Linked DNA regions of Homo sapiens: all the other regions are linked to region 7. The links come from fine-mapping of genetic effects on plasma protein levels. A gene starts in region 7. Each other region holds a variant in brackets. All regions are shown on one strand. Distances are between the middles of the regions.

Evidence for each region. PIP is the posterior inclusion probability: the model's chance that the variant is causal. Protein levels are from antibody-based Olink assays in UK Biobank. Linkage for the fine-mapping came from a reference panel and not from the study's own genotypes, which makes the PIPs less certain.
Region 1: its variant is fine-mapped to the plasma level of the GNPDA2 protein (UK Biobank, PIP above 0.99).
Region 2: its variant is fine-mapped to the plasma level of the GNPDA2 protein (UK Biobank, PIP above 0.99).
Region 3: its variant is fine-mapped to the plasma level of the GNPDA2 protein (UK Biobank, PIP 0.95).
Region 4: its variant is fine-mapped to the plasma level of the GNPDA2 protein (UK Biobank, PIP above 0.99).
Region 5: its variant is fine-mapped to the plasma level of the GNPDA2 protein (UK Biobank, PIP above 0.99).
Region 6: its variant is fine-mapped to the plasma level of the GNPDA2 protein (UK Biobank, PIP above 0.99).

Annotation. Positions count from the first base shown.
Region 1 is chr4:44,138,014-44,142,581 of GRCh38, forward strand. No RefSeq gene overlaps it. Among named protein-coding and RNA genes, the nearest start is that of LINC02475, 120 kb to the left of the region's middle. The variant C/T (reference allele first, on the strand shown) is at 2,333.
Region 2 is chr4:44,962,336-44,966,903 of GRCh38, forward strand. It overlaps LOC124900850 (a long non-coding RNA gene), which reads left to right and starts at 3,535. Exons shown (of 2, transcript XR_007058449.1): 1 at 3,535-3,618. The variant A/C (reference allele first, on the strand shown) is at 2,318.
Region 3 is chr4:44,806,927-44,811,494 of GRCh38, forward strand. No RefSeq gene overlaps it. Among named protein-coding and RNA genes, the nearest start is that of GNPDA2, 83 kb to the left of the region's middle. The variant G/A (reference allele first, on the strand shown) is at 2,369.
Region 4 is chr4:44,130,903-44,135,470 of GRCh38, forward strand. No RefSeq gene overlaps it. Among named protein-coding and RNA genes, the nearest start is that of LINC02475, 120 kb to the left of the region's middle. The variant A/G (reference allele first, on the strand shown) is at 2,499.
Region 5 is chr4:44,798,953-44,803,520 of GRCh38, forward strand. LOC105374440 (a long non-coding RNA gene) reads left to right here and starts at 1,318. Exons shown (of 3, transcript XR_925278.4): 1 at 1,318-2,915. The variant T/G (reference allele first, on the strand shown) is at 1,991.
Region 6 is chr4:44,712,341-44,716,908 of GRCh38, forward strand. The region is part of intron 4 of GNPDA2 (glucosamine-6-phosphate deaminase 2); the gene reads right to left. Among named protein-coding and RNA genes, the nearest start is that of GNPDA2, 12 kb to the right of the region's middle. The variant A/C (reference allele first, on the strand shown) is at 2,312.
Region 7 is chr4:44,723,980-44,728,547 of GRCh38, forward strand. GNPDA2 (glucosamine-6-phosphate deaminase 2) reads right to left here and starts at 2,577. Exons shown (of 7, transcript NM_138335.3): 1 at 2,495-2,577. RefSeq lists a silencer at 1,993-2,287 and an enhancer at 2,780-2,909.

The DNA.
Region 1 (4,568 bases), 590 kb before region 7:
TGGACACAGGGGCAGGGGGGTATCACACACCAAACCTGTCGGGGGGTGGGGGTTGGGGAGGGATAACATTAGGAGAAATACCTAATGTAGATGACGGGTTGATGGGTGCAGCAAACCACCATGGCACATGTATAACTATGTAACAAACATGCACATTCTGCACATGTACTCCAGAACTTAAAATATAATTTAAAAAATAATGTAGTGATAAAGTATGGGTTGAGGTGAAACATTCTATTATCCTATGATTAGGTCTCAGCCTCTTAGTGAGCCAGTGTCTCTAGGTTGTGATCCTCACAAGTGCTTCTCAGATTTTTCCCCTCTTAGGCAAGACCAGATGGCTAGAGGAGGCTGGAATTGGGTAATTCCCGTCCCCCTGGTCAGTTAGCTTCTGATAAAACCCCAATAGTGTAGGTGGTAAAATAGATTTTCCTGAGGGCAGGCCTGCTGGAGAACAGAATGCTCTGGCTACTTTTTTCCTTTCCCTGATGGAAGCTACTGGAGGGAAAACGCACAAAAATGTAAGCCTATACCCTAAGACTGGAGTTTTTAACTCCAGACTTGTTCACACTGAGCGTCCAACAATTCATCAATTGTAGTTCAGATTTTCCTGCCCCACTGCTGGTTCTCACAAAGGTTTCTGCTAGTGGGTCTCCCGTCTGGTAAACTTGGTTATCTTTATCTGCCTTTCTGTCTCAACAATTTGGGTGAGAGAGGCAACAGTTTTCCTTGTGACTTCAAGTTTCTGAGAGATCAAAGAAAAGTTGTGGATTTCAGTTTGTTCAGCCTTTTACTTGTTGTAAGGCATAATGGTGACTTCCAAGCTCTTTAAGTGCCAGATCAGAACACCCCCAACAGTTCTTTGACCTCTTCTTTTTAATGCTTTGACCTCCACCCCACCTCAGACAGTTACCCCCATAGCTTGTCTTAGACTTTGCCAATACCAAAGACTGGAAGTCTCCCCAGATCTCAACTTAAAGTATGCCACTTTACATAGTCATTTCTTTCTCTCCAGTTCTTTCTCTCATACATCAACTCTTAAATGTTCAACTTCAACAGGACCTAAAAGTAATTGACTGTAATATCTTCTGTCTGACCCTCACCCCTGAAATGTGCTCACTTCTGGTTTACTGTTTAATATATGGTCCATTCCTATAGTCTGTGCCCTGTATATTTATCCAATATTTATCCCTTCTTTCATTTCTCCAAGTTATCTGAAAAAATTACAACCCTAGTTAAATTCAGTTCTTTACATTCTCTATTCCTATACCCAATTAGTTGGATATTATTGAAAAAATGATCCATGCTAACTGATTTTACTTCTGCTTCTGGCCACAAATTTCAAGTGAGTCCTCAATGGCCTCCCGCACCATTCTACATTTACTCACTTATTTACATCCCTACTCTCCTAGACAAGCATTTTCCTGCTTGCTTTCTTCTCTTTAAACTTCCAACCACTATCACTTCATCCTTACTCTGATATGATAACTGCTTCCTGTTTCACTGAAAAAATAAAAGCAATCAGAAGATAACTTTCACAAGTTCGCACTTTGACATTTTCCTATCTAGCTATACTTGTCACTATACAGTCTGTATTCCTTCCTGTTATTACAGATAAAAGACCATAGTGAAGACTAACCCATCCACTTTCTCACAGTAACCTCAAACCTACTAAACAACTTCACTTTAGCCATCTTTCTCTTCTTCCATCTAAAAATCAAAAACAGAAACCTCTGTTGTTTCCATATTACACTATGGCTGCTATCCCATTTCTACATGTCATATGGTAGCAAAACATTTTTGTAATGTTATGTATTTGGGCTATCTTTACTTCTTAAACTCCAATTCCTTCTTGAGTCCTCTACAATCAAGATTTCTTTCCAACACACCTGTAAAATTATTTTCAATATCATTGATTATTTTCACATAACTAAAACCAATAACTTATACTCAATCCTTTCCTTGACCCATCACTGAAAATTCCATGGGTCAAGGAAAGGATTGATGGGTTCATCATTGAAAATCAGCAGCATTTCCAATAGCTTTTCAATTATTTATCTTCTTTAAAATAATTTCTTTATTTGGTTTCTGGGACACACGATTGTTCTCCATCTCATTAGCTCCTCCTTTGGAGTTCCTTTTGTAGCTTTCTTCTCTTTTACCTAACCCCAAAATGTTGATGCACCCTAGGATTCAGTTCCTAAATCTCTTTCTTATCTACATTATTTTTTTTCTATTCTTAGGTCCTTACTGACTACACTGGACAGCTACTAAATTTATAACTCTTGCCAGACTGCTACCTAGAATTGAATATACAAGTGCCTAATCAATA[C/T]GTTGATGCTGATGTCTATTAGGTGTCTCAAGTTCAGCAGCACAATCAAAAAAGAATTTCTCCTTTTATCTTCCAATGTTTAATTTTCATATTTTCTTCTATCTCTGTAAAGTTTTACTCTATCTTTCTAGTTACTCAGGCCAAAGATTTTGGTCCAAATGTTCAAGTCACCATTATTTCTCTCCAGAATTATTTTAAATAGCCTACCTGCTTTCTACCAGCTCCTACTGCACAATACACTCAGCACTGAAGACAAAATGATTCACTTAAAATTTAAGCCAAATTATGTCACTCTTCTGCTAAAAAACCTTTCATGATCCTCACCTTAGTCTTCTTGGGCTGCATATAACAAAAATACCATAAACTGAGTAATTTATAAATAACAGAAATTTATTTCATACAGTTCTGGGGGTTAGAATGTCCCAAATCTAGGCACTTAACACATGTAGCGTCTGCTTGAGGGCCTTTTCCTCTTAGTGAGTTACTTCTCTCTGCATCCTCACATAGTGGAAGGGGCTAGCGAGCTCTCTTGGGTTTCTCTTATAAAATTATTAATCTCTCATTACCTAGTTACCTCCCAAAAGCCCCACCTCTTCATATTGTCACACTGGGGATTAGGTTTCAACATATACATTTTGAGGGGACACAAGAATTGAGACCAAAGCCACACCTCACTCCTGACATGTTGGCAGGTTCTGCTTCAGGGTCTTTGCATTTGTTCTTCCCTTTGGCTAGAATTCCATTGAACTGATTCTCCAAATTGATTTTGCCTTCACCTTTAAAAATTATTTTTAATAAACTTCACATTTTAGAGGAGTTTTCAGTTTACATAAAAATGAAGTAGAATGTATATAGAGTTCTCATACAGTTCCTCAACCCTTCCAATCCCATTCTCCTATTATTAACATTTTTCATTAATGCAGTTCATTTGATACAATGTATGAATCAATATTGATATAATATCAACTAATGTCCATAGTTTATATATTTACACTTGGGCCCACTCTTTGTGTTGTAAACTCTATAGGCTTTGAAAAATGTATAATGACATGTATTTGCCATTATGGTGTTATACAGAATAGTTTAATTTCCCTAAAAATTCCTGAATTCCACTTACTTATTTCTCCCAACCTTCTCCAAAAGCCCTGGCAACCACTGACCTTTTTATTATCTCCCTAGGTTTCCTTTTCCAGAATGTCAGATAGTTGGAAAAATATGGTATGCAGCCTTATCAGAATGACTTTTCACTTACCAATATGCATTTAAAGTTCATTCATGTCTTTTCATGGCTTGATAACTCATTTTTTTAGTTCCTTAATAATTCATTGCATGAATGTACTGCAGCTTGTTTATTTATTCATCTATTGAAGAACATCTTGGTTGCTTCTATGTTTTGCTAATTATAAATACAATTGCTATACAATTTGTTTGCAGGCTTTTGTATGGACATGAGTGAGTTCTCATTTGTTTGGATAAATAACAAGGAGCATAATTTCTGGATTGTATAGTAAGAATATATTTAGTTTCATAAAAGAACTTTTAAATGGTTTTCACTTGTTTTTCTTAACTTTTAAAAGTCTTTATTCAAAAATCCACTTCTTGTTTTGGGCTTTTCTAAAGATCCAATTTAAAATTGCAAGCCACTGTTCCTCTGCCATGACCTTGACACTTGATACACACTGAATGATTATGTTTCCCCCAAATTAATATGTTGAATCCTAATCCCCAGTGTGGTGGTCTTAGGAGGTGGAGTCTTTGGGAGGTAATTAAGTCATGAATGTGCAGCCCTAATGAACACGGTTAGTGCTCCTATAAAAGAGGCCCAACAGAGCTCCCTCTCCTCTTCTACCAGGTGAGGATGCATTGTGAAGATGGCTATCTATGCACCAGAAAGCAGGATCTCACCAGATACTGAGTTTGTTGGTGATTTGTTCTTGGGCTTCCAGTCTCCAGAACTATGAGAAATAAATTTTTGTTGTTCAAAGCCACGAGTCTACAGCATTCCGCATAGCAGTCCAAGTGGACAAAGATGACACTCTCTACCCATTGTCTTTACTTCAAAACACTAATCAATATCTAACACACCAGATATCTTACTTATTGAAGTGTCTCCTCTGACCTTCTCTCATCTCATGCCACTAGAGTATAATTTCCATAAGAGTGAGGATATTTTTCTTTTTTAAAATTAAATCTTCTATACCCAAAGCTTAAATGATTAGGACAATTTAAAAATATT
Region 2 (4,568 bases), 240 kb after region 7:
ATGTTTGCAGCTTTCCTCCTTGTCTTTTCCTCACAGTGTCTCCAATCCTATCCCCCTGTTAGCTCCAGTGCTTATAAGAAGACCAAGTGCTTTCCCTTGGCCTGGGTTGCTCAGGTCTCCAGTGGAAAGGTAAGCTACAGAGGGAGGCTCTCTGCCACTCTCACATACTGAGGCTTCATTCACTTCTACTAGCTGGATGTCATCACGGGAGCTGTTTTCCTTCATCCTCCCTGGGATCTGGGGTCTTATTCACAATTCTGGTGGATTCCTGTTTTTCCTTCTCGAATTAAACCCCACAGAGTTTATCGTTATGTATTGCTTGCTATTTCCAAACGGTTGAGGCATGCTAAAATCCTCTAATCTACCATCTTGGAAAAAATTTAATTTCTTCTTTGGAAGATTTATTTAATACCATAAGAGAACCTGTGCTATCACTTTACTGAAAAAGAAATGACCACATTATGGGTAAGTGTTTAGAGACAGCAATGCAAGTTTCAGAAGAGTTTATAGAGATTGCTCACTGAGAAACTTAATCAAGATTACCTGGTGGCTTGCAATTAAGAATTAGGGCCAATGTAAATACTTGTCATATTTTGAGATCTAAAGCCAACACAAAATGATATTAATGTAATTATCTGTGATAGTTCTTTACTCAAGTAAATAAAGTAAATAACATTTTTTCACTTTCACTGCATTGGTTTACTTTAATTACTTTCTATTTATGGCTAATGATACTTGATATTCTATGTTTTGTATTAATTTAAGAATTCCTTTTTTAAAACTAAATTTATTCTAGAAAAATAAGTCGTTTTATTCAAAACATATATTAAAGGTTCTTGGATATGAAAAACTCCTAAAATGTATACATTATTTAAAAAGTATAGGAAAATGGGATTCTCATAATCTTTACATGTTACTTCTTTAAGCACCCTGACTGACTCTTTTTCTGGCCTTTTGCAACATTTAACAATTCTTATGGACAATAGTTATAATTTTATCCATTCAAGATTTTATTTCTTGCAAGTTGAACTAATTTCATCTTGTTTTCCATCATGAAAATATTGTGGCTTTTTCTTTTCTGTAGTTCAGTGAGTGGGAGGGAGTGGGACTCATCAGGTTTTTCTTTCCCATAGTTTGGCAAGCAGGAGGGAGTGGCAATCAGAGGCCTTTTTGCCCCTGAAGCTTGGCAAACAGGAGGGTTACACCTCTTTCATTCCCACTGCCCACAGCTTGGTGAGTTCCAGGTTCTTGTCCCATGACCAAGAGGAATAAGGTATGCAGACAGGGGAGAGAGACTAAGGCAGAGAAGAATGCTATTGAGTAACATAAGAAAAGCTCTCAGCTGCAAGAGGGGACCCTGAAAACAGGTAGCCATCTGTGAGGCTGAGTCCAGGGTTTTTATGGGCTTAGAATGGGGGAATGTATGGGTGGTCTTGGAAAAAGAACCATCTGATTGGTTAAAAGGCATCATCCAGAAGGAAACAATAGAGAAAGAGAGTAAGACAGGGATTGTGGCAGACTGTCACAGTTACTTCTTGAGACCGTCATTACAGCAGTTACTACTGTTACTGCTTGAGGCTGTCATTACAGCAGTTACTACTGTTACTGCTTGAGACCATCATTACAAGACTGAACAAAGGGATGAACATAGAAAATGATAATAAAAAACAAAAGAGACTGTTTTAAAGGAAAGGTCCAGGGGAAGAAGAGAGCTCCCTGCTTCTAGTGGGCAAAGGCAGCCCCTGAGCTTCCACTGCCCTTCATATTTATCGGGTAACAAGAGCAAGGAGGAGGAGGTAATGATTGGTCAGCTGCTTAATTGATCACAGGTTCATATTATTACTAACAGGCTTCAGATGTACCTAATCACAAGAAACATTGGACTTGGGGCATGATTGCCCTCAGCATTCTTTCTGGGTGGCAGATGTAGTTTGTCAGTTTGCCAACATTCTGTGTTTATGAGAACAGTTTGCTGTTTAGTCATATAGCCTCCAGTGGTATACTGAGTTGATCACGACCCTCAGTCTTTCGGCCTCCAACAAGGGATAGATGTTTTCACTCTGGTCTTGAACTCTATCTGGAACTAGCAGCTCGGTTTTCAGGTTTTAAACTGTCTTTGGCTCGAAGGTCAGGTTTCACTGGGTCTGTCCCTGTCTACCTGGGAATTTGTCTGTCTCCTGTTGCTATCAGTAGCTACTACTTCATATTACATACACTGAACCATGTTACCTATTACTGGATTGTGACAAAATGTAAAAAGTCATTTCTACCAACTGTTTGGGTTAGTAAAACGTATCTATAAGAGAGGCTGAGTACT[A/C]TTAATTACCCTTTACCAAGTTGCAGAATACCAGGAAGATAATCTTAAGATTACCATGCAATATGTATTTTAGCATGCAATATATATCTTAAATTTTCTCAGCAATTGCCTAAAAATTATGAAGAGATAATGATGAAACACATATCATTCAAATATGCTTCCCTTGACCTGAAATTCTGATTTAAAATCATTTGTAAAAAGCATATTATTTTATGTGAATTAAAGTCAAGTGGTAATAGCAGGCCTAGTAACTAAATCAGTTGTCTGTATTAGTTTCCCTAAGAGAAAATGATGATAGTCCAGGGACAGAAAGTCACAGAAGACAAGAGTGAGTATTGACAGAAAATGTAGTAAGCCTGTGAGAGAAAAACATACTTTGCCTTAACAGATGGTTTAAAAATGGTCGAATTTTACTTAAAAAAGAATGTACACACATCTTTCAGAAAGAAAGAAAGGCTTCAGTAGATCAATTTTAAGATGTCAGTTTGTCTCAATACACAAAAAGTTAATAATTAAAGATTTTGGCAATGAATACTAAGAAAAAAACATCTTTAATCACATATTACCACAGTAATACATATGTTTCTATTGTTCAACTAGATATCAATTACTGATGATACTACTGGTTTAAAAAAGATTTTACATCTTGTGATAAATATGCTGAAATTTTTTCTTATGCCTTATTTTCAAATGGCTATTTTTTAAAATGTATGGTTATTAAAACATCTTAGCCTAATGATGGTCCACAGCTGTATCACTACTACCCAACAATATAACAATAATAGTTCCATCTCAGTGTGTCCAAAAATCACATTTCCTATGGCATAAAAGAGGTCAAAAACCAAAGAAAAGAGGCACCCTCCTATTAAAGAGAAAAAGAAAATTGGTGCCTTTCAAAATATGAGTCACTAAAGTGAATGGGCTACGATTGCCTTAGGAATAGACACATGCAGGCGTGAACCACACGCGCACGCACACACACACACACACACACAGCACTTAAGCTACCACTTTTCCAAGAAGGAATTGAAATGAGAAAACAGAGCCAGCCCAAATGCAAAGAAAATATAACAACTCATCTTTGTCACTTCCACCCCTTTTTAGAGCAGTTTTCACTTTTGACGCTAGGTTCTATTGTTACTTTGGTAGCTTGTTTTGTCTTGTGTAGAATAATGCAAATATGAGTGTTCCATCATGATCTTTCTAGCATTCTTCCTTAAGCAGAGCTCCCTTGAGAGTTCTTCAAAGAGAAGTTGAATGATTAATCTGATTTTGCTTCCCTGGGATTACTCATTAGTAAGGTAACAATGGGCACTCTTCTGTTTTAAAGTCCTAACATCATTGCAATTCATCCCAGAGGTGATATGAATTGTTCCATTCTATAAGAGTCTGAAGAGCAGCCAGTCCTTTCAGAAATGTACCTCTGTCAAAGAAACTGGAATCTGCACGTTCTCTTCTTGACTAGTGAAAAGTAATCTGTTTATTTCCTATGGGGCTATATAATTTTGTGGGTGACTAAAAACAGTGAAGATATTATCAGCTTAATCCTTGGAATAGTGTAATATGCTTTGCAATAAAATTTGTGACTCTCATAAAATATTGAGGTCTTTAATGACCTGAAAACTTCTTGCTAAAAAAACTGTAGATTGATCAACATATGTTTTGTGTTTGTGTTTAATGTTGATCATTAGACTGCTCTCTCTGTATTCTCCTTGCCACTTTCTTTCCCTCACTCACACTTAGCCCTAGCCTTCCACTGGTTATGTGCTCTGCCTCTCCCATATGCCCTCTTAAGAACATTAAATTTAGTGCCATATCACTGCAGGCATTTCTCCCTCAGAATTCCTAAGTTGGTCTTCCAATTTCTAATTTAATATTTTTGAGGCATCTCATGTCTTTGACAGCTTTGATTTATAGAGAAAGATTATTCCCCAGTCCCTCTTCACAACAACTCACCCCTTTGCTTGACTAGATTTTATTTTCTTTAAAGAAAGAGGACATGCCAATTTGGTTAGTTCAAGTTCATAACAATTGACTGAGCCACATTGGTGTGTATATTTTGTCTAAGTGGGAAGACTCCTCTTATGAATGGTTACTTCCTTTTTCTGTGACTGAATGGATCAAGGAATTTAAAATAGGCCTCTCTCTTTTTCTTCCTTTCTCTATACATGAAAATAAGTGATAAGGTTGGGAGGGCCTGATATGTCATGATGAAGATAGCATGATGATGATAATAATTATCATCATTGTG
Region 3 (4,568 bases), 83 kb after region 7:
GTACTGATCATGTCCAAACACTGATTCACCACCCCAGCCTCCAAAGTAAACATGCTTCTGACTTTTATAATATATGCTTTTTTCTTTGCAGTTTTTTCACTGAAGCACAGATCTCTAATCATTACACTATAGTTTCATCTGTTGTCAAACTTCATATAAATCAAATCATACAGTAAATGATTCATTTTATCTGCTTCTTTTGATCAATGTTTATGTTTAGTGAGACTCATCCATGTTGTTGCTTGTAGCAGTTTGTTCACCTTCATTGATTCATAGTATTCTATTGTTTTATTATTGCACAAATTGTTATCCATTTTGTTTTATTTTTTTAATTGATGCATAATAGATGTACATAATTTTGGGATATATGTGATAATTTAATACATTCATATAGTTGGTAAAGATCAAATCTGTGTACTTGGGATATCCATTACCTTAAATGTTTGACTTTTCTTTATACCAGAACCATTTGAATTCTATTTCAAAATTGTATTCAAATTCAAAAGGCTACTTTGTAATGTATAATAGATGACTGCAAATTATATTAACTCTACTGATCTATCTAACGCTAGTTCTTATTTCTTCAATTGGATGGCTCGTTTGTACCCATTTAGCAACTTCTCTTGATCTTCCTCTTTTTTAATGTTGGTAGACATTTGGGCTTTCTCCAGTTTGAAATGTTTGTAAATAATATGCAGTTTTGTGTACATCTTTTGCTGCACGTGTCCACATCTTTCTTGGTTATATAGATGGGAGTGGAATTTCTATTATAGCATGTGCGTATTTTCAATATTAGTAGTTTACTCCAAACTCTTCTCAAAATGGTTGTCCCAGTTTATAATTGCACCAGCATTGTGTGATAGTTTCTGTTAATCTATATCCCTGTTAAAATGTTTCAGTCTCAATTTTAGTCATTAATGGGTTTCTAGTGGTATTTCTTTGGGATTTTCATTTCAGTTCTCTGATTACTTCTAAGATTAAAATATTTTCATGTATTTATTTGCCATTAGGACTGTCCTTTTTATGAAGTAACTGTTTAACTGTCTTGCTTATTTTGGCTAGCTTTTTATTTTTGATTTGTAGAATTCTTTATATATTCATATATGTGTGTGATATTTTCTTCCGTACATTGGCTTGCCTTTATCTCCCTTGATTATATCTTTTGAAGGCTATAAGTTTTTAATTTTCATGTAGTCCAATTAAAAAATTTTTCTGGTTTAGTGTTTTTTGTGTTTTGTTTAAAAAGCTTTATCCTACTCCAAGGTCATAAAGATATTCTCTTATAATACATTCTGAAAATTTCTAGTTTTGTCTTTTACATTTACACCTATATTATACTTAGTTTTGATATTTATTTATGATGTGACACGAGTACATTTAATTTTTTCCAATATTTTTTCCAGTTGTTTTAGTGATAATTCTTTTGTCTTTGTCTGTCTGAATAGTATTTTGACTATTCTGAGTCTGTTACATTCAATTTAAATTTTAAGATAATTTGTAAAGATAGACACACACTACCACACTCCACACCCACACATCCTGTTGTAACTTTAATGACCTTTTGAGAAGTTTTAGAAGAATTGAAGGATTTATTTCTTCATAATATCAAGTCTTTCCAAAATAAACGTTATACCCCTACATTTATATAAGTATTTATTAGTTTCTTTCAATAATGTTTTATTGTTTTCAATGTAGAAACCTTATACATCTGGTCTAGATTTACTATATTACATAATTTTGATGCCACGGTAAATAGTATGTCCTTTAACATTTTTATTTTCTAGTCAATTGTTATGGGAACTTTCAGAAATATAATCGATTATTTTTTGTTCATCTGTATTTTATTTTATTTGTTTAATTTCCAACTTTTAAGTTCAGGGGTACATGTGCAGGATGTGCGGGTTTGATACATAGGTAAATGTGTGCCATGGTTGTTTGCTGCACCAATCATCCCATCAGCTAGATATTAGGCCCAGCATCCGTTAGCTATTCTTATGATCCTGTCCCTCCTCCCACCCACCACCCTCTGACAGGCCCCAGTGTGTGTTGTTCCCCTACATGTGTCCATGGGTTTTCATCATTTAGATCCCACTTATACGTGAAAACATGCAGTATTTGGTTTTCTGTTCCTGTGTTAGTTTGCTAAGGATAATGGCCTCCACCTCTATCCATATCCCTGCAAACAGCATGATCTAGTTTCTTTTTATTGCTGCATAGTATTCCATGGTGTATATGTACCACATTTTATCCAGTCTCTCATTGATGGGCATTAGGTTTATTCCATGTTCTTGCTATTGTGAATAGTGCTGTAATGAACATACATGTACATGTGTCTTTTTAATTTGGGTGTAAAATAAAAAATTTATGG[G/A]TATATAAAATGATTTATATTCCTTTGGGTATATACCCAGTAATGACATTGCTGTGTCAAATAATATTTCTGTCTCTAGATCTTTGAAGAATTGCCACACTGTCTTGCACAATGATTGAACTAATTTACCCTCCCACTAACATTGTAAAAGCATTCCCTTTTATCCACAACCTCACCAGCATCTGTTGTTTTTCGATTTGTTAATAATAGCCATTCTGACTTATGTGAGGTATTTCATTGTGTTTTTGATTTTCATTTCTCTAATGGTCGGTTATATTGAGATTTTTTTCATGTTTCTTGGTTGTATATATATATATACATATATATGTGTATATATACATATATATGTATATTATATATGTACATATATAATATATATATGTATATATATTATATATATATGTATGTATGTATTTGAGAAATGTCTGTTCATGTCCTTTGCCCACTTTTTAATTTTTTTTTTCTTGTAAACTTGTTAAGTTCCTTATAGATGCTGGATATTAACTTTTGTCAGACGCAAAGTTGGAAAATTTTTTCTCTGACTCTGTAAGTTCTCTGTTTACTCTGTTGATAGTTTCTTTTGCTGTGCAGAAACTCTTTAGTTTAATCAATTTTTGTCAATTTTTGCCTTTGTTGCAATTGCTTTTGGTGTCTTTGTCATGAAATCTTTGCCTGTGACTGTGTCCTGAATGATATTATCTAGGTTTTCTTCTAGGGTTTTTACAGCTTTGGGTTTTCCCTTTAAGCCTTTAATCCATCTTGACCTGATTTTTGTATATGGTATAAAGAAGAGGTCCAGTTTCAATTTTCCTCATATTGCTAGAAAGTTTTACCAGCATTATTTATTAAATAGAGAAACCTTTTTCCAATGCTTGTTTTTGTCAGTCTTTTTGAAGATCAGATAGTTGTAGGTGTGCACTATTATTTCTGGGTTCTCTATCCTGTTCCATTGGCCTATGTGTCTGTTCCTATACCAGTACCATGCTGTTTTGTTTACTGTAGCCCTATAGTATAGATTTAAGTCAGTTGGCATGATGCCTCCAGCTTTGTTCTTTTTGTGTAGGATTATTCTTTTTGTGCCAATTGTGAATGGGATTGTATTCCTGATTTGGCTCTTGGCTTGACTGTTGTTGGTATATTAGAATGCTAGTGATTTTTGCACATTGATGTCGTACCCTGAAAGTTTTTTGAAGCTGCTTGTCAGCTTAAGAAGCTTTTGGGCTGAAACACAGTGATGGAGTTTTCTAGATATAGGAACATGCCAACTGATTTGACTTCCTCTCTTTCTATTTGAATACCCTTTATTTCTTTCTCTTGCCTGATTGCCCTGGCAGGAACTTCCAATACTCTATTGAATAGGATTGGTGAAAGAAGGCAACCTTGTCTTGTGCTGGATTTCAATGGGAATGCTTCCAGCTTTTGTCTCTACGGTATGATATTGGCTTTAGGTTTGTCATATATGTCTCTCATTATTTTGAGGTATGTTCCTTCAATATTTAGTTTATTGAAAGTTTTTAACATGAAGGGATGTTGCATTTTATTGAAGGCCTTTCTGCATTTATTGAGACAATCATGTGGTTTTTATCTTTATTTCTGTTTATGTGATGAATCACATTTATTGATTTGCGTATGTTGAACCAACCTTGCATCGTGGGAATGAAGCCTATTTAACTGTGGTGGATAAGCTTTTTGATGTGCTGCTGGATTCAGTTTACCAGTATGTTGTTGAGGATTTTTGCATCAATGTTCCTCAAGGCTATTGGCCCGAAGTTTTCTTTCTTTGTTGTATCTCTGCCAGCTTTTGGTACCAGGGTGATGCTGGCCTCATAGAATGAATGAGGGAGGAATCCCTCCTATTCAATTATTTGGAATAGTTTCAGTAGGAATGCTACCAGCTCTTCTTTGTACCTCTGGTGGAGTACAGCTGTGAATCTATCTGCTCCTGGGTTTTTTTTTTTTTTTTTTCTGATTGATAGGCTATTTATTACTGCCTCAATTTTCAGAACTTGTTATTGGTCTATTTAGGGATTCAATTTCTTCCTGGTTCAGTCCTGGGAGGGTGTATGTGTCTAGGAATTTATCCATTTTTTTAGATTTTCTAGTTTATGTGCAGAGATAATATTCTATGATGGTTGTTTATATTTCTGTGGGATCAGTGGTAATATCCACCTTATCATTTCTGATTGTATTTATTTGAATC
Region 4 (4,568 bases), 590 kb before region 7:
ATAATTATTAAGTCAGTTAGGCAATTCCATCAGATCTGCAAGTCTCAAATTCTCAAAAACTTAGACTGTAAAATTCCACTGATCCAGCCCAAGGCCATCCAAGAATTATCTTATTCTTTATTCACCAAAAATAATAATAATAATCCTTCAGTGCAAATTTTCCCATGTTTTCTATTAAATTAATTTATACATATTTGTTTAGCATAATATTCTTAGCCTGTGGGTAGAGTCACTGCAAGTGCAATAATGGGTGGTTGAGGCTCAGTGAGACATGCTCTTTCACTTGCTCTTTGTTCTTGGCTCATTTCACTCTTGTAATCACAAAAATGCAAGCATTCTGCAGTTTTCTCCTTTTTTATCCTGCCCTGATTTTCCATAAGGTTGTAATCTGGGTATGCGCCCCTAAATTCACTGATGCAACACTTCCTATTTCTACTAGCTAAACTTGATATACTGCTTTATCCAAGTCAATAAATTTCGGTTCCAATCTGTTCTGCTGAACTAAATTTACTCAACTGGTGCTAAAGGTATTTCAGACAACAGGAAACAGTAAGACATATATTTAGGGAAGATAGACCTTCTTAAAGTCCTTGAAAAAGCATTACTTTGACACCAGGCTTCCTTGCATATCAGTACATAGCAAAAGGCAAGGAAATCTATGGTATTTTCACAAATCGCTTTCCTTCACTCTTTCTTCCTTCCATTGCTTTAGGTAAAGTCTCACCTTTCCTCACATGGTTTACTGCCCCAGACTCTTGTTTTTTGTAATTCCCCACACCCCCCAACCCCGCCCCGCCAACTCTGCTGGAGCTTCATCTCCAGATTCTTACTTGTTCTTGTTACCTCCTTCTTTTTGTTTCTCTTTCCATTTTCCCTGAAGGGCTGGTGGTCTTCTCAGACATCTGCAAACCACAAAGAAAAGATGGAATACAAAAGGTATGGTCTGGAGGAAGGGAGAGTGGAGGGACCACAGAAAGTCCAGGAACCACAGCCTCTTATCTGGCCTCACCATCTTCAATATTCACGCCCCAAATTTAACCATCACAACGATGCTTGTCTAACATTTAGAACTAATCTTGCCACTTCGACTTACCTGCTTAACTAAAATGTTAAGGCTTCCTGTGACACATAAGTCACCTCATGACCTGTCCTTCATGTTGTCAGGATCTACCTCCTATCATTTCTGCACTTATCCTATGAAAAGCCAAGCAACCACATACCTTCCAGAACACACTCACCATTCTCCATGTGCCTCCTTGCCTTTGCTATTCAGTTCTTCTGTCTGGAGTACTTGTTATTCTTCTTCTCCTGCTGGCTAATTCTTATGGCTCTCCAAAACTTAAGTTCAGAGACTATCTTCCTGAGGAAGCTTTTATGCCCCCTCTTACCTCTCTGCTGGGCTGTGACTCTGTAACAGCCTAGGAGTCTCTCCATAAGAGCACTTGCCATATAAGCGAAGACGTTTTGGTCTGTGCCTGTGTTTTTTCCACTAGGCTATTTGTCCCTTGAAGTTAAGGGCTATGTTTTTCTCTTTAATGTACACACAGCATTTCTCAATGTAAGTGTTATTAACTTAAAATTTGAAGTGGAAAATTTTCTCTTTATGTAAAATGTTCTCTCTCTCTCTCTTTTTTTTTTTATTTGAGTCTGTCACCCAAGCTGGAGTGCAGTGGGATGATCACAGCTCACTGTAGCCTTGACCTCCCTGTGTTCAGGTGATCCTCCCACCTCAGCCTTCTGAGTAGCTGGGACAGCACATGCCAACATGCCTGGCTAATTTTTGTATTTTTTGTAGAGATGGTGTTTTGTCATGTTGCCCAGGCTGGTCTCAAATTCCTGGGCTCAAGCGATCTGCTTTCCCTTGGCCTCTCAAAGTGCTGGTATTACAGGTAAACCACTGCACCAAGCTCCCAGTGAAATGTTCTTAACTTTGTAAAACACTTAGTGTTCATGGCCCCAAGCCAATACATGTTTGTAAGACTCCAAGTCAAAGTTCTACATTCCCATTAGGTGAGTGCTATTATCCTTGGTTAAAACCATTATTGAACAGTACAAATGTGTGGTACAAAAAAGGCACTCAAATGTGTGCTGAATAAATGAAAGAATGAGTTAATAGATGAATTCGTGAATGGATGAATGAACACTTTTGCCCTAAAATTAATTAGTTATAATCTATTTTGGTTGCCAACAAATTCTAAGTGATTTAGTTGTTTTCCCTCAAATATCTCCAATTACTTTGAAGCAAGTCACTTCAGACAATTGCTAAGTGACAACTTTGTAAATGATGCTGATATCATTAATACAGATATTTCAATTATTTTAATTTCATAGCCAGATAATTTTTTTAATTGATATAGGTTTTTTGTTAACTTTAAAGCTTAGTGTATATATACTTACAACTGCAATACATAGAAATGACTTTTCTTTGCCATAACAAATACTGTACTACTTCAGATACAGCTATTATTAAAATATGGCCATTCCACAAAGCATGACAT[A/G]CGCCATGTTTCTAGAAGGGTAATTATAGTTGAAAATGTATTACAAATTCCAACAGATTCGTCCCTAAGATTTGAGAATAGGTGTTGTTTTGGCAGAAGGGAGATAATGCGTTATAAAATAGGCTTTTATCAATACTTTAGAGTTTCAAATCATGTCTTTCTGGCTGCATAAAAAAGTAGCTTTTGTATGTATGAAAATAGTAGTTTTCTAGTCAGCAGAGAATTATTACTCTACCAGTCTCTCACAGTAAAAGTAAAGTTATACATTGAATGTTGTTACAAAAAAAATAATTTCTATGAAAGTTGTGAATATACATAGGCTAAGTCTTGGAGCTTAACAGAAGACTTAGAAGACTATAGAAAGTTAGTCACTATCTGATTTAAAAATTTATAGATACACACACACACACACACACACACACACACACACACATATATACATGCATCTTGGAAATACAAACTTTACCTCTCCTTAACTGCTTTAGAACACACACAAAAAATACATTGATAGTTTTAATAAAGAAATATTCCTAATAGATTCTCTAGAAAACACATTATATAAATAATTAATTAATCCCTCCTCATCGCCCCTGAACACTGTGAGCTTCTACAATAATTTATTTTTCACTATACCCTATACTTTAGCCCTTTTTGCTCAATCCTCTCACCTCTCAGCACTGCCCTTCCGCCAGCACCTCATCCCTGTAGCTGGAAACTCTAGCATGGAAGTAAATTACAAAGAAAGAGCATGGGATTTAGTCAGAAGATAGGTGTCTGTCTTTTATTACCTGTCTGATTTTTGAGCTGGCTACTTAGCATCTCTGAGTCTGTTCCTTCATCTGTAGATTGAGGATAAAAGTAACTTAACATTAGAAATAGAGAAAAGTTTAGTTCTGTCCAAATAACCAAACTGTGTCTCACATACTAGGTTATAACAGGAAAATTTGCAAGTTTGCTCCTTGTCTCTAATATTTAACATTAAAAGCTGGAGAACAGTCCATTATCAAGGTACACTCAGGTTGGTTTAGTGATTCTTTTCTTAAACTTAGACTACCTACCTACATTTTTTTTTATCATGAGAGAGAGAGAAATTGGTCTTAAGGTTCTCCAGATAAACAAAACGAATAGTACATTGGTCCCATGATCTGCTATCTACCGGAGACCCAGAAAAGCCAGTACTGTAATTCCGTTTAAGTCTGAATGCCTGAGAGCCAGGCGAGCCCATGGTATTAATCCCAGTTCTTGGCAGCAGCAGTAGATCAATGTCCTAGCCCAAATAGGCAGTCAGGAAGCAAAATGGGCAAATTCTTTTTTCCTCTGCCTTTTTTTTGTATTCACGCATTTAATGGATTGGAGGATGTCCCTCTACACTGAAGAGGGCAATTTACCTTAACGAGTCTACAGATCAAATGCAAATCTCATCCAGAAACATTCTCATAAACACACTCAAAAATAATGTTCCATCTTAGCACTCAGTGGCACAGTCAGAAAATTAACCATCACAGGTATCTAGACTCCCTATGTTTTAAATTAGCTAATTATTTTTACTTTCGAACTTGGTCATTCTTACATGTTCCTGATCTCAGTTAATAAGACATGACCATCTACCATGTTAGACAATATATGAACTCAAAAGTCATCCTGGATTTCTTCCTCCTTCTCACCTTCACTTCAGTGTTCCACAAGAACCTTAATGCAATGTGCTCAAAATTGATCCTTCATCCTTCTTCCAGAATCTGTCTTTCCACTGTTCCTTATTTTGATGATCATCTATCCAGTCACATTAGTCAGAAACTGACAATTATTTAGGATTCTCTCTCTCTCTCTCTGAGAGGTGGTATATATATATATGCACACATTCACACACACACAACACCTCATATATATACACACATACATATGTAGATAGATAAATATATAGGTGGATGATAGATTGAGTGATCCTTTGGCTATTATATTTATAGTATAATGTGTATATCCTTTGCCTCTCTAATAGCCATTCCCTCTTTTCTTGCCCTTCACCCTTTCCCAATTCTTCCTGATGGAACTCTCCCAATAGACTACACCGAC
Region 5 (4,568 bases), 75 kb after region 7:
CCTCCAGTCCCTGGAATGGTAGAGCCACCAACAGCTTGCATCGCATGCCTGGAAAAGCTGCAGGCTCTCAGTGACAGCCCATGAGAGCAACTGTGGGAGCTGAACCCTGGAAAGCCACAGGGCTAGTACTGGTTAAGACCTTGGGAGCCCACCCTTTGCATCAGCATGGCTGGGATGTGAGAAATGAAGTCAAATGATATTATTTTGGATATTTAGGATTTAATGACTGCCCTGCTGGGTTTCAGACTTGCATGGGGCCTGTAGCCCCTTGCTTTTGGTACATTTCTGCCTTTTGCAAAGGGAATATTTATCCAATTCCTGTACCTCATTCATATCTTGAGGTAACTAACCTTTTTTTTATTTTACAGGCTCATAGATAAGAAGGGACTTGCCTTGTTTCAGATGAGACTTTGGACTTTTGAGTTAAGACTTTAGGGGACTGTTGGGAAGGCATGACTGTTTTGCAATTTGAGAAGGACATGATATTTGGGAGGGGCTGCGGTGGAATGATATGGTTTGGATCTGTGTCCCCATCCATATTTCATGTTCAGTTGTAATCTCCAGTGTTGGAGGTGGGGCCTGGTGGGAGGTAATTGGATCATGGGGGCAGTTTCTTATGGTTTAACACCATTCCCCCTTGGTGATGTCATTGTGACATTGAGTTCTTATAAGATCTGGTTGTTTAAAAGTGTGTGGCACTCCCCCCTCTCTCTCAATCCTGCTCTTGCCATGTAAGACGCCTGCTCTCACTTTGCCTTCCATCATGAGTAAAAGCTCCCTGAGGCCTCCCCAGAAGCAGATGCCACCATGTTTCCTGTACAGCCTGTGGCCATGAGCCCATTAAACTTCTTTTTATATAAATTACCCAGTCTTAGGTATTTCTTTATAGCAGTGTGAGAATGGACTAATACAACTAGATAATCTCAACTAACCTATCTTTCTATTTCTAGTAAAATAGATACTAGTTTGCTATTTCTTTCTTCCACCAGCTCAACTCTTCTGTTGAGCCCCACTAGTAAATTTTCATTTCAAAATAAAATTTCAAAATTTTATTATGCTTTTCAACTCCAGAATTTTTGTTTGTTTTTTTAAATAATTTCTATATTTTATTGATTTTCCTTATTATGACATTGTTCTTATACATATCTTTAATTCTTTAGACATGGTTTTTATTAGTACTTGAAAAATATGTTTATATATGTGTACACACATACAGATGTATATCTAACTCATTAAAAGTCTCTGTCTAGTGAACCAACATCCGAGCTTCTTCAGGCATATCTTCTAGTGAATGTATTTTTGCTTATACATAGGCCATACTTTTCTCTTTCTTTGTATGCCACAATATTTTTGTGGAAAACTAGATATTTTAAATTGCATAATATGAAAAATGTTGACATCAGAATTCCTCACTTTCATATTTGTTGTTGTTGCTATGTTGTAACACAGTGTGTGTCAGTGTATGCCTTCAAGATTTCATTGATTAACAACTCTACCTTAGTCTTCACATCCTGCTTTGTAGAGTCTCATCATCAGCCAGAGGTGAGAGATTATGGCCTTTCCTACTGTTCCTGGGCAAGCACATTGCCCTGCACATGTTCATGGCCTTCTAGATCTCTAGATGTATGTCTTCCTAAGAACATTTTATTCCCCATATTCCTTAAAGATTTAGAACTTTAAGACCTAAAGTTTTTGGTTAGTTTCTGTTTGTTTGTTCCAATTGGTATTGCTGCCCTAATCGGCTGTGATAAACAGTTACCACTGATTGTTTCTGACAAATGTCTTGGGTATAGAGCTTATACCACTGAGTGAATACTGAATTACATAAAACAAAAACAAGCTCTGTGAATGAGAATTCTCTAGGGAGCTGCCAAACATGCCAAACAGTAACAATATTTGTATGTAAGTCTTAGGGGGATGATCTAGTGCCCTCTCCAGTAGCTGCTAGATTGTTGAGTTTTACAGCTACTGTTGTTGCAAGACTGATTAT[T/G]TTGAAGGATATTGCAGAGCTGTGGCAAGGGGGATGCAAATAGAGAAAATTAACATGCCACAAAACTGGCTGTCGTTATGAAGACTCAGCTATTTTTCTTCAAAAAAATGCTCCTTGTAATGTTGCAAGCCTTTGGTAATTTCTAGAATGTAAAAAAAGTTGATTTTGACCATTTTTTGGGCAAGTGTTTTTTGTGCTTATGTTGGAGCTGACTTATTTTGTTATTCCAGAACTCTTGCGTGATGGTCTTTTAACTGGAATGCCTACTTATTACTCTTTTCCCCTCACAATACAGTCTTGATAGAGAAGCCTAAGAGAACTAGTAAAAGTATAAATCAGATCATATCACTACTCTGACAAAAAACTTTTGAATTGGTATTTCTTAATGTTTAGAATTAAATTTAAGTTTCTGATTATGGTCTACAAACCATTTTGGCTTAAGAGACTTTATAAGTGAGGTTCAAAAGCAGCAAAAAGGTAGCAAAAAGAGCATGGGGAATTACTTTGAAGCTGATATCTATACAAATCACATTTCATTTTAGGGGGAGGTGGAGTGTTGCTTTTGTTTGCTACTGACAATTGTAGTGATACAACTCTCTTATCTGTTGGATTATCTTGGCTCCTAACTGGACTTTTATTGCATCATCTCTTTCCCCTTAGAAACTACAAATTGCTGATTTCTGAAAGCCTGTTCTTCCCTATTACATTATTCTCCTCTCATTAGTTGTCTGTTTACTTTTACATCTGAATTTTAATCTATTGTTGTAGACAAGGAGCTGTGCAACTCCATTCCCCCTTCAACGAAGGAATTATTGCCCAACCCTGAAGATGGTAGCCAACCAAGAATTTCCTACATTCAGTTCCTTTGGGCCAGGCTCAGTTGCAGGGAGGAAACGTCACTGAGGTTGTGCATTCACAACCCATGGTAATCATTTACCCTGAATTATATATTAATTTATCCTGACTATATAATTGGGATTTAGATGCTTGTAAGATGGCACTATTGCATTTTTGGTCCTTGGAGTGCAGGGCAATGGCCTAATGAAAGCTTCTGAATATGCCCTCTCTGCCTTCAGCCAAGATAATAAATTTAAAAAAATAGTGCACAGTGAAAAACTGGGCATAGATGGAGAGTATAGAGTTACTATTAAGAATCTAAAAAATGAAGGGATGGTGATATTTATCACATATAATATTAACTTACCAGTTTGGCCACTACAGAAACTAGATGTATCCTGTAGAATGACTCTGCATTACAGCAAGCTCAAGTAAATAGTAGCTCTAACTACAACTACCGTGCCAAAGAAAGTATCTTTGCTAGAATGATTAATATGGCCTCAGGTATATAGTTATTCTCCAGGACTATGTTAATTCTCTTTTCACAATGTAGTCTAAAGAGATATGGACCATTTTTTATATCCTGAAGACTATTACATTGATTCATTGCATCAATAATATGTAGATCTGGCTGGATGAGCAAGAGATGGCTAGTCTTGCTGCAGGCTCAGTAAGACAAATTTGCTCCAGAGAGTAGGAAATAAACCCTAAAAGATTTGGGGGCTGACCACTTGAGTAAAATTTTAGAGGTTCAGTGGCCAGAGGCTGCCAGTACATCCTTGTCCAAAGTCAAAGTTAAATTATTACATATTGCTTCTTATTCTGCCATGACTAAGAAAGCACAGTGCTTTGTGGGCTACTTTATGCTCTGGAGACAGCTTATTTAACACCTAGGGATACTGCTTTGCCTGGATGCTGAGTGACAAAACAAATTTTAAAAGTTGCTATCTTTGAGTATGGATGGAGCAGGAAAGAGCTCTGAGCAGACTGAGGCTGTGATATAAGCAGTATTTCTTTTTGAACTATGCAATCTGTTGGAACCTACATGTTGGAAGTATCAGTGATAGGAAATGGGACCATGTTGATTTTGTGTGAAGCACAAGAGAGGTTCCTGGGGTAATGGAGAAATGCCATAAAACCAGGGAATATTATGTCTTTTGAAAAATAACTCTTGACAAGCTACCAGGCCTGACCATGGGACTGCAAGTGACCATGTGGACAGAACTATCATGAGCTAGGTCCTGTAAGTGTTACTAAGCCATAGTCAGATAATACCAACAGTAACCCTATTATAAGATGAAAGTGTGATATCCAGGATTGAGCACAAACAGGTTCAGAGGACACAAGAAATTTGCATAAACAGGTAGTTGAGGTCCCTATGGCTCCCACAAGTAATAGTACAAGCATTTCTTTCTCAGCTCATTTCTATGGCTGTATGACATACTGTAGGACTAAAATTTAAAAAAATGAAAAATTTCTGAGTTTGGCTTCCAGATGGGTCAGCTTGGTATGTAAGTATAGGCCAAATATGGATACCAGCTATGCTATAACCTTACTCAAGGATGCCTTGAAAAACTGTGGTACAGAAAAAATCTTTCCAATGGAGAGAGTGATTGTGATGTATCCAGGCCTTGACTTAGTATGAAAAGAGAAGTGACCCAAGGTTAGAATGCACACACACATTCATGGAAAAAGATTGGAAGATCATGGACAAGAAGATGTGGGATAAATGTATGTGGTT
Region 6 (4,568 bases), 12 kb before region 7:
GGCCACAAGAAGATAAAATATGACAAAGAGTAACCCAGTTTTGAAAAATGAAGAAATGAATACTCTATTGAAGCAAGTACAGAATGCCAAAGTACAACAATTTATGAATTTTTAATATGGAGACATAAGGCCAGACCTACATATGGTTAATATGCATTGACTGTTTCTACTATTAAGTATGTATCTGCTTATAAATATATATTAATTATAGACATTAAATTATCTAGATTTGTAAAAGTGTTCTGTTTCTCCTCTTAGGTATACATATCCCTAACATTTATATTTCTCTATATATGTGTAGAGGGAAGGATGGGATCAGGAAAATACAAGCTTCAGGAAAAAAATATGAAGTCTACTAAGATCTACTACTACTGACCTCACTGATGATTTGGGCCTTATAGAAGTGTACAGCTAAGCTGAAATTATGAGCAAAGGTTAATAACAGAGCTGGGTCAAGGTATTTGCTTGTTGGCTATGAATAACTGAGGTTCCTGATATAAAATTATTTTTTTAAATGTGGCTAATTCTTATTCAGCCTTTAAGTCTAAATTAAGATATCAGCACCTCTATGAAACATCTCTAAAACTCACTGTCTGGAGTAAATGTCATTCCTGTGTTCCTACAGTTCTAAGGGTAGAATGTACATGCACTCTTCATGAAAGTAAGGGCTTTATCTTCATTACTATATTACCATTTAGAATAACAAGTGACACATAGGACGCACTTATTAAATAATGGCTGGATAAATGAATGTATGGTTGCTATTCTTTGGTCAGCTCGGTATAGTTTATTCCACCTCCCACCTTGTTCTCTTCTGCCTTGCTCCCCTCACCAGAGGGGCTGGAACAATTTTAATTTCCTATATCCCTCTTAGGTAAAGTGACTGTGGTCTAGAGATAAGCACTTGTCTCAGGCTGAGCCAATCAAAATATCTGTCTGGATCTGAATCTTGACCAGGGATACAGTTAACGAAGACAGCATGGTGAACTGAAGCACTGGATGACAGCACTGCAGGGAGAAGATTGATGAGTTTCTACTTCTGAGATCTGAGGTTCTCTGTTTTTCCAAAGACTTGGTTGTTTTAACTTTTCCTTCAGTTTGTGAGTTACCCTAGAATCATTCCAGTTAATTTACTTTTGATCCCATTAGTTATTTCCTTTTTCTACCAAAGCAAAGAATCCAAGCATGCAACCAAATCAGAAGGTTAACATTTTCTCCACTGTCTTCTTTTATTTTTACTTTTTAAAAACACTATTAGGCCGGGTGCAGTGGCTCACACCTGTAATCCTAGCACTTTGGGAGGCCAAGGCAGGTGGATCACCAGAGGTCAGGAGTTCGAGACCAGCCTGGCCAATGTGGCAAAACCCCATCTCCACTAAAGATACAAAAATTAGCCGGGCATGGCGGCAAGTGCCTGTAGTCACAGCTACTCAGGAGGCTGAGGCAGGAGGATCGCTTGAACCTGGGAGGTGGAGGTTGCAGTAAGCCAAGATCAAGCCACTGTACTCCAGCCTGGGCAACAGAGCGAGACTCTGTCTCAACAACAACAAAAAACCCAAGACACTACTGCGTTAAGATATTTTAAAAGTTTATATATTTAGATTTTATTGTAAAACTAGATTTTTAAAATTATTTATTTATTCATTTTGAGACGGAGTTTCACTCTTGTTGCCCAGGCTGGAGTGCAATGGCACGATATCAGCTCACCACAACCTCGGCCTCCCAGGTTCAAGTGATTCTCCTGCCTCAGCCTCCCGAGTAGCTGGGATTACAGGCATGCACCACCACGCCCAGCTAATTTTGTATTTTTTTTTAGTAGAGACGGGGTTTCTCCATGTTGGTCAGGCTGGTGTCGAACTCCCAACCTCAGGTGATCTGCGCACCTCAGCCTCCCAAAGTGCTGGGATTATAGGTGTGAGCCACCGGATCCCAGCCCTAGATTTTATTTTTAAAAATCCATGTTTGTATATCTTATTGCTGGGGTTAAGTCAGGAATTGCATGATACACCTTTTACCCTTTCTCTGAACACGTTTGCCATCAGAGGAGGAATTAGAACATTTGAGTATGTATTTCCTCCTTTTTCTTTCCCTCTTCCCTCAGAGGAAAGGGACCTCTGCTCTAATTCCCTGGAATGAGCAATAGCAGATTAACATTTTTGAGCTCTTCTCATTCTACTGTTTCCAATTCAAAGGGCAGGAGTGAAAAACCCCATTCTGGCTTCAAGCCCAAACTGCAATCTCTATTTCAACTTTACCTTTAATAAAGCTGATATTTTGATCCCATTTGGCACAGTTCTTAGAGTTTTTATTA[A/C]CCAAACCCTGGAACAAAAGAAGGGTAGTTGTAAGACCCAGATGCCAATCCTCATCTAAAAATCCAATGATGATAAACCTAGATCAACAAATGAGATTCTTTCATGAATACATATCCAATAATAGGGCATCCCAAATAAGGAAAAGTTCAAAGAAAATGCAATAATCCTTCTCTCTCTCTGCACAATTATGTCCTTTAGATGGTACATATAAAATGTCAGGCATTGGATCATCCATGACTACAGTGAAGATGTTAATGTAAGAGGCACAGGAACTCTCTTAAAATATATTTGGGAGCGGGGAGGAGCGGGGAAACAACTACAGGAAGCTTAAGACAAACTGGTTAAAAAACCAAGTCAAATTCTTTTTAGTGGTGTCAGTGATAAACATATATAATTATAACTTATGCAACATCTATTTCAAAAGGAGAACTGAGGTGGTTTATACTGAAGAAACATAACCCCCTCCCAAAAAAAATTAGCTGAAAAGAAGTACGAAATGATTTAAAGTTATAAGGAAAGAGGAAAGTTCTACCAGACATCTTGGATAAGAATTACAGGCTTAAACATTATTTTATGCTATGAATGCTTTCTGGAAGGCAGGCAAAGGAATAAAATCAAGTGTTCTTATCAGTGTTATTCCCCATAGTAAAATCTATTTCCTACCTTTGGGTCTACAAGAGATTTGTCACATGCATACTTATGTAAGGTCAATAAATTAACAAGGGGGAAAGAAAGTCTACAAATGAAGATATTTTCAAGCAGCCACTTTTAATAATGAACCTCAAACAACTAAGAGCCTTTTTTTGCATTATAGTAAATGAGTGAAAACATTTTTTGATATAAGCAGTTGAAGTATGTGGTACTCCAGTAATTCTACCAGATTTTGGTGTGGAGCTTAGAAAATCTAAAGATTAGATGGTCTATGCACCCCTCAGACACTCTCAAATATCTACTGTCTAGCCTGAATATTGGAAGGTACAAATGGTTAATTATCTCAAAATTGAGTCATACGTACAAAGCAGGAGTATGCAAATGTTCTCTAGGATTACTGAAGTAATATTAGTAAATTTTATTTAAAACAGATAACCTTCTAATTTGAAAAGCAATAGTCTAACTTGGTTTCTTGCTCCAATAAACAACCATTCTATCAAGAAAGTAAATGTTATTGACTCTGCTAGGTAGAAGTAAAAACTATCTTAAAGAGAAGATTTCAGTCTTCCTGGATGTCCCTAGAGGGAATTCGGTAAAAATCCCAAGGAATTCAGTAATTCTAAGGGACAATTATTTCCGCATTTACAGTTGAGAGAGAAAGAGAAGACTGAAGTAGCACTTATGGAGTACCAACTATATACCAAGCACTGTGTAAGGCATTTTATACATGTTACAACATGATTAATTCTCACAAATTTTGGAATGTTTAATATTAATCCTCTTTTACAAATGATGTACCTATACTGAACTTCAATAAACTTTCCCAGGTCATACAGATACTAAGTGGCTAAAACAGGATACAATTTTACGTCTGACTTTAAAACCAAATTTCCCCCAATGATAATCAACTATCTCAACCATACTTGGCCACTTCAAGTATAAATTAACCTCAGGACAGCTCTATTGAAGATCAAATTCATGTAATTTTGATCAGTGTTCTATTAAGTTAATAATAAGTTATATACAGATAATTTACAGCATTAGTATTTTTAGTTGAATATTAAAGAATCTGGCAAAAAATTTTGATTTTAGTTTAGTTGATGTTGAACTATTCTTATAGCAATTAGCTAGCTGTCTGCGATAGTTTACACTGATAATAGAAAACCACGTTGTCATTACAAAGGAAAAAACTTATTTTTAACTGTAGATTATATATACACACACATATATAAATTACAAGTGGAATTTGGTAAATTAAACATTAATTTTGGAATTTATTATGACAATTATACAGCTTAACTCATATTAACTTAAGGCTGGTAAGTAAAAAGTTTTACATCATTCTTAACTGATTACTCAGTAAGATGAAACAATTAAAGTAATCTACTAAAATCCACCTGTTCCTCATGCAAACGTTTAAACTCTGTAATTTGATAAGTAGGCTGGCTAGAGTTTTAAAGAAATAGTAAAAAGAAGCTATCATTTAGGTAAAGAAACATATTACTCATTTTGAAAGATGTGGTAAACTGTCAACTTTAAAGAGGTAATTAACAGAGTTTAACGGGGATTGGGATCTACCTCTCAAGGCATAAGGTAAACAATTCC
Region 7 (4,568 bases):
CTTAGTCCACGGACAATCCAAGGCACTTTCCCCTTCCATCTGAGAGGTGGTGGAAGGCAGTCGATCGTAGGGAGAGTAGCCTTTGGTCCTTTGCTACTTGGGCATGGGGAGATGGGTTTTTTCCTTTTGGTCTAGCTTTAGGAAGTTTGCGTTAATTGGTTAACTGGCTTTAGGTTACCTGCCCCCAGACGCAGGTGTTTTCTCTTTTAGGAAGTCAGCACAAATTGGCCTTAGATTTCCTGCCCCCAGACCTTGGTGTTTTCCTTTGATTTAGCTTTAGGAAGTCAGCACGAATTGGCCTTAAGTCCTCTGCCTCCAGACCCTATTCTACTGCCTCACTGTGAATAGTGCTGAGATAAAAATGAATGCGGGTATCTTTTTGATATAATGAATTATTTTCCTTCGGGTAGATACCCAGTAGTGAGATTGCCTGATCAAATGGTAGTTCTATTTTCAGTTCTTTGAGAAATCTTCATACTTTTTTCTACAGAAGTTGAACTGACATTACCATCAATAGTTTATAAACGTCCCCTTATAACATTTACTGAACATTCTGTAATAATTCCCATAATTCTTAGATTTTTAATTCTTATTTTTATATTAAATGGATCAGTCACCAATACCAAGCTTTTTATAACATGGTTTCAGCATTCCTGAGTTTTGTACCCACACACTTTACATAGAGTAATAAGTCAAATTTTCTAAATTAATGAGATTAAAAGGTCTTATTAAAATAAATGTATGGAATCTAAATGTCTTTAAGAAGGTAACAGTTTCGAATTCTGACACAACAACAAAAAATCATGGTCACCATGATCTAGAATTCTGGCCCGATAACAATTATTTATTTACAGAAAATAAATTACATAGTAAGTCATAAATTCAGTCCAACAACTGGACTCAGCCTCCACTTAAATATAATCCATAATCTAATGTCAAAAACAATTTTAGAGTTAAACCAAAGAATCAGAAAGAATTATTGGCTGTAATGAACATCAAAAGATATATTTACTTCTAACAAGAATATATGGCCAGCTGATTGTTAATAAAACGGAAAAAAAATAAGGTAAGGAGGACGAGAAGCATTAGAGCTTTCCAATGTCTTCTGCATCCTGGGCATGTTATTTTTCTCAGTTCAACACACGTTTGAAGACCTATTATATTCTAAGCACTATGCTAGGTTCTGTAGACACAAAAATGATTAACTCTATTGTCAAAGGGCTTAGAATCACTTGTCTCTGAGGTTGAAAGCATTATTCTCACTCTTCATATACAGAAAACTGCAACTACGAGAAGTTTATTGCTGACGTTAAAAAGTGGCCCGGGGAGCTGGCTTTAAAACTAAGTGTTTCTGACTCAAAGAGACATTAGCCAAAGATGTCTTACCGGTTGAGAATCACTTACGATGCTAGTTAAAAATACAGATTCTCAGGTCCCTCTCCCTAGACACAGTGTTTCAAAAGATCTGAAATGAAGTCCAAGGAATCTCTGCTTTTGCAAATTATCACAGGGGATATTCATAATCAGGTGAAATTTGTTAAGAACACCACACATCTCACTGAAACGAAGTTTAAGCAAGTCTCTCAGACCAAGGTACAGGCAACTTTTTGTTTTCTTAAACTCTCTGGAGGGCGCAGAGTCACCTCCAAAAGTCCCAAATGAATCCCTTCACCCAGAGCAAAGAAGAATTTCTTCACCACATTTAAGTTTTTAAGATTTGACTTTTCCAGTTTTTGCCAATCCTCAGAGATCCAAACTATTGTCGCCTTATGCAATTCTCTGGCATCACAAGACAGCATCAAAAAACAACAGAGCACCACCCTTTCCCTCGTCTTCCTTCAGGTGCTGATTCATTTTGGATGTGCATCGCTAGGAAAAAGGGCTGCTGAATATAAATCGCAAAACTTCAATGGTGGATGACAACTTCTACACCCGTGAAGTTACACAGCTAGTTAATGGCGGGGCCAAGACCAGAATCTACACTTGCAGAACCTCTGCTCTGAGCTTTTCCCTACTCAACCTGACCTGTCCTGAAAGCGTAAGGGTGGCCTGGCCGCGCGTGTGGGACCGACCCGAGGAGGGACGAGAGACAGCAAAGAAGGCTGTGGTTCCTGCCCGGGAGGCGGGGGCTGCAGATTCCCCTCAGCTGCGCGTTTGCCTGGCCCTCACTTGGCAAAGGACAGCGAATGCAAATGAGGATGACTGTTAGGAATTTTTAACGAGTGTAGAGAGAGGTGTCAAGAAGAAGCCGCGAGAGAGGAGAGGGCAGGGACGCCTTCTCCCGTAGGCACAAATCCGGAGAGGACAACCAGGTCCGCGAGTGGCAATACGGGAGACCCCACGCGCCCCCAGCCTCGAGGTTCCTGAGCACCCATTCCGCCCCGGCCCGGCGTCCCAGTCTCAGCACAAAGGCCGCACAGGGCGAAGTTGCCGTCGGGTCCCCCGACCCGAGTCCCCTTCTTGGCGCCCCCGCCGCACCCCCCGCTAAACTTACCGGCAGACCCAATGGTTCTTCGATGCTGGAACAGCGGGAACAAGCAACACCCAACCACCCGAGAGCGACCCCAGCTGACCAGTGGAGCGCGAATCCCACGGACCCGGATGCAGATAAAGGCGCAGGAAGGAACCGCGGCGTGGCTGGCGGGCGCTGCGCATGCGCACCGCCTTTAGGACGCCTGAGGTGAGACGCGAGGAGTTCGGTCCGAGTGCGGTGCGGCTGGGCGCTCTTCTTGCCTGGAAGATCGCAGTTTCTGGGTCATCACTTTACGCTACTTTCCCCTCCCCCCCATCTTTCAAAGAGGGATTTGCAGTAGATTCTTTAGGCTTATGAGATTTAGTATGTAAGACCGTAGTGCTCACACGTACTTTGTTGCTTATGTTGCTGTTTGGCAACATGAATATATTTGCCATTTATGAATACATTTCTCTCTCTACTCCAAGCTATTGAATGCATATTTGCAAACGCAATGACAGATAAGCGTCTTGTGTCAAAAAACTCATCAAAGTTTGCAAAAGGGCAAACAGTACCATGGGAAATCGGGAGCGTCTCAGTAAGAGAAAACACTATATAATAGGGTACTGGCTTTTGCTGAATGAGTCTAAGAAAGGGATAGGGGAAGCTGGAATCAGCTTTGAGCTGGGTATCACAGATGTTTATACAGGAGTGGGAAGGAATTGGGCTGTGGAAATTATTGTAAAGAAAGCAGCTATCATTCAAAAGGAGAAAAGTGTGTTGTGTCTTCACCATGTTCCATCAGGAACACTGTTCCATTAATAACACCGTTTAGGGTTCTGTTAGGAACAATACAATCTTGACTCCTAGCCAACTTAAGGTTCTGTTTCTGTGGAAACTACAAGTTAAAAAAATGTAAAACGCTGTGTCCTCAAACTCGTTATATGAAGTTTTTCACCTGGGTTGTAAATCCAGCCTGCTTCTTTGAATGTAATGACTCCTCTTGCATCCTTTAGTGAAGAGTAGGATGTTACATTCTCGTTGATTTAGCTTCAAACAGCAACATTGCTCACATACTGATAATAGACAGGTTTATTAGTACTATCGCCTTCAGTAAGTTTGCAAAAGCGATTTTTGGCCAGATTCGGTGACTCACGCCTGTAATCCCAGCACTTTCAGAGGTCATGGTGCATGGATGGCTTGAACCCAGGAGTTGGAGACCAGCCTGGGCAACATAGCAAGACCCTGTCTCTCCAAAAAAGATTGAGGTAAAATGATGAAGTAGTTTGTAGGCTATGCATAGAATTTAGGCTTTGTATTGTAGGCAATAGGGAGTCACTTAAGCTTTATGAATTGAAGATAAGAGACTAGAACATACGTGTTTTAGAAAGAATGCTGTAGAAAGGTGGAGACTGAATTACAGTCTTGAATTACAGATATGTGCCACATAAGGAAGTTTAGGTAAAGAATGGACTGGATATTTGGCAATGGTCCCATAAGATTATAACAGAACTGAAAAATTCCTATCACCTAGCGACATTGTAGTAAACGTAAAGTTGTAGAGCAACACCACTCGTGTTTGTGGCTACATAGGTGTAAACCTACTGTGCTTCCAGTCTCATAAAAGTCTAGCACATACAATTATGTACAGGATATAATACTTGATAATAAATGACTATGTTACTGGTATATGTATTTGCTATATTATACTCTTTATCATTATTTTAGAGTGTATTCATTCTATTTCTATTTTTATTTTTATTTATTTGTTTATTTTTTTGAGACAGAGTCTCGCACTGTCACCCAGGCTGGAGTGCAATGGCACAATCTTGGCTCACTGCAACCTCTGCCTCCTGAGTTCAAGCAATTCTCCTGCCTCAGCCTCCTGAGTAGCTGGGATTACAGGCAGCTGCCACCACGCCCGTCTAATTTTGTTTTATTTTTAGTAGAGACGGGGTTTCACTTATTAGCCACGCTGGTCTCGAACTCCTGACCTCGTGATCTGCCTGCCTCGGCCTCCCAAAGTGCTGGGATTATAGGCGTGAGCCACCATGCTTGGCCCTATTTATATTTTTAAAAGTTAACTATAAAACAGCCTCAAGGAGGTCTTTCAGGA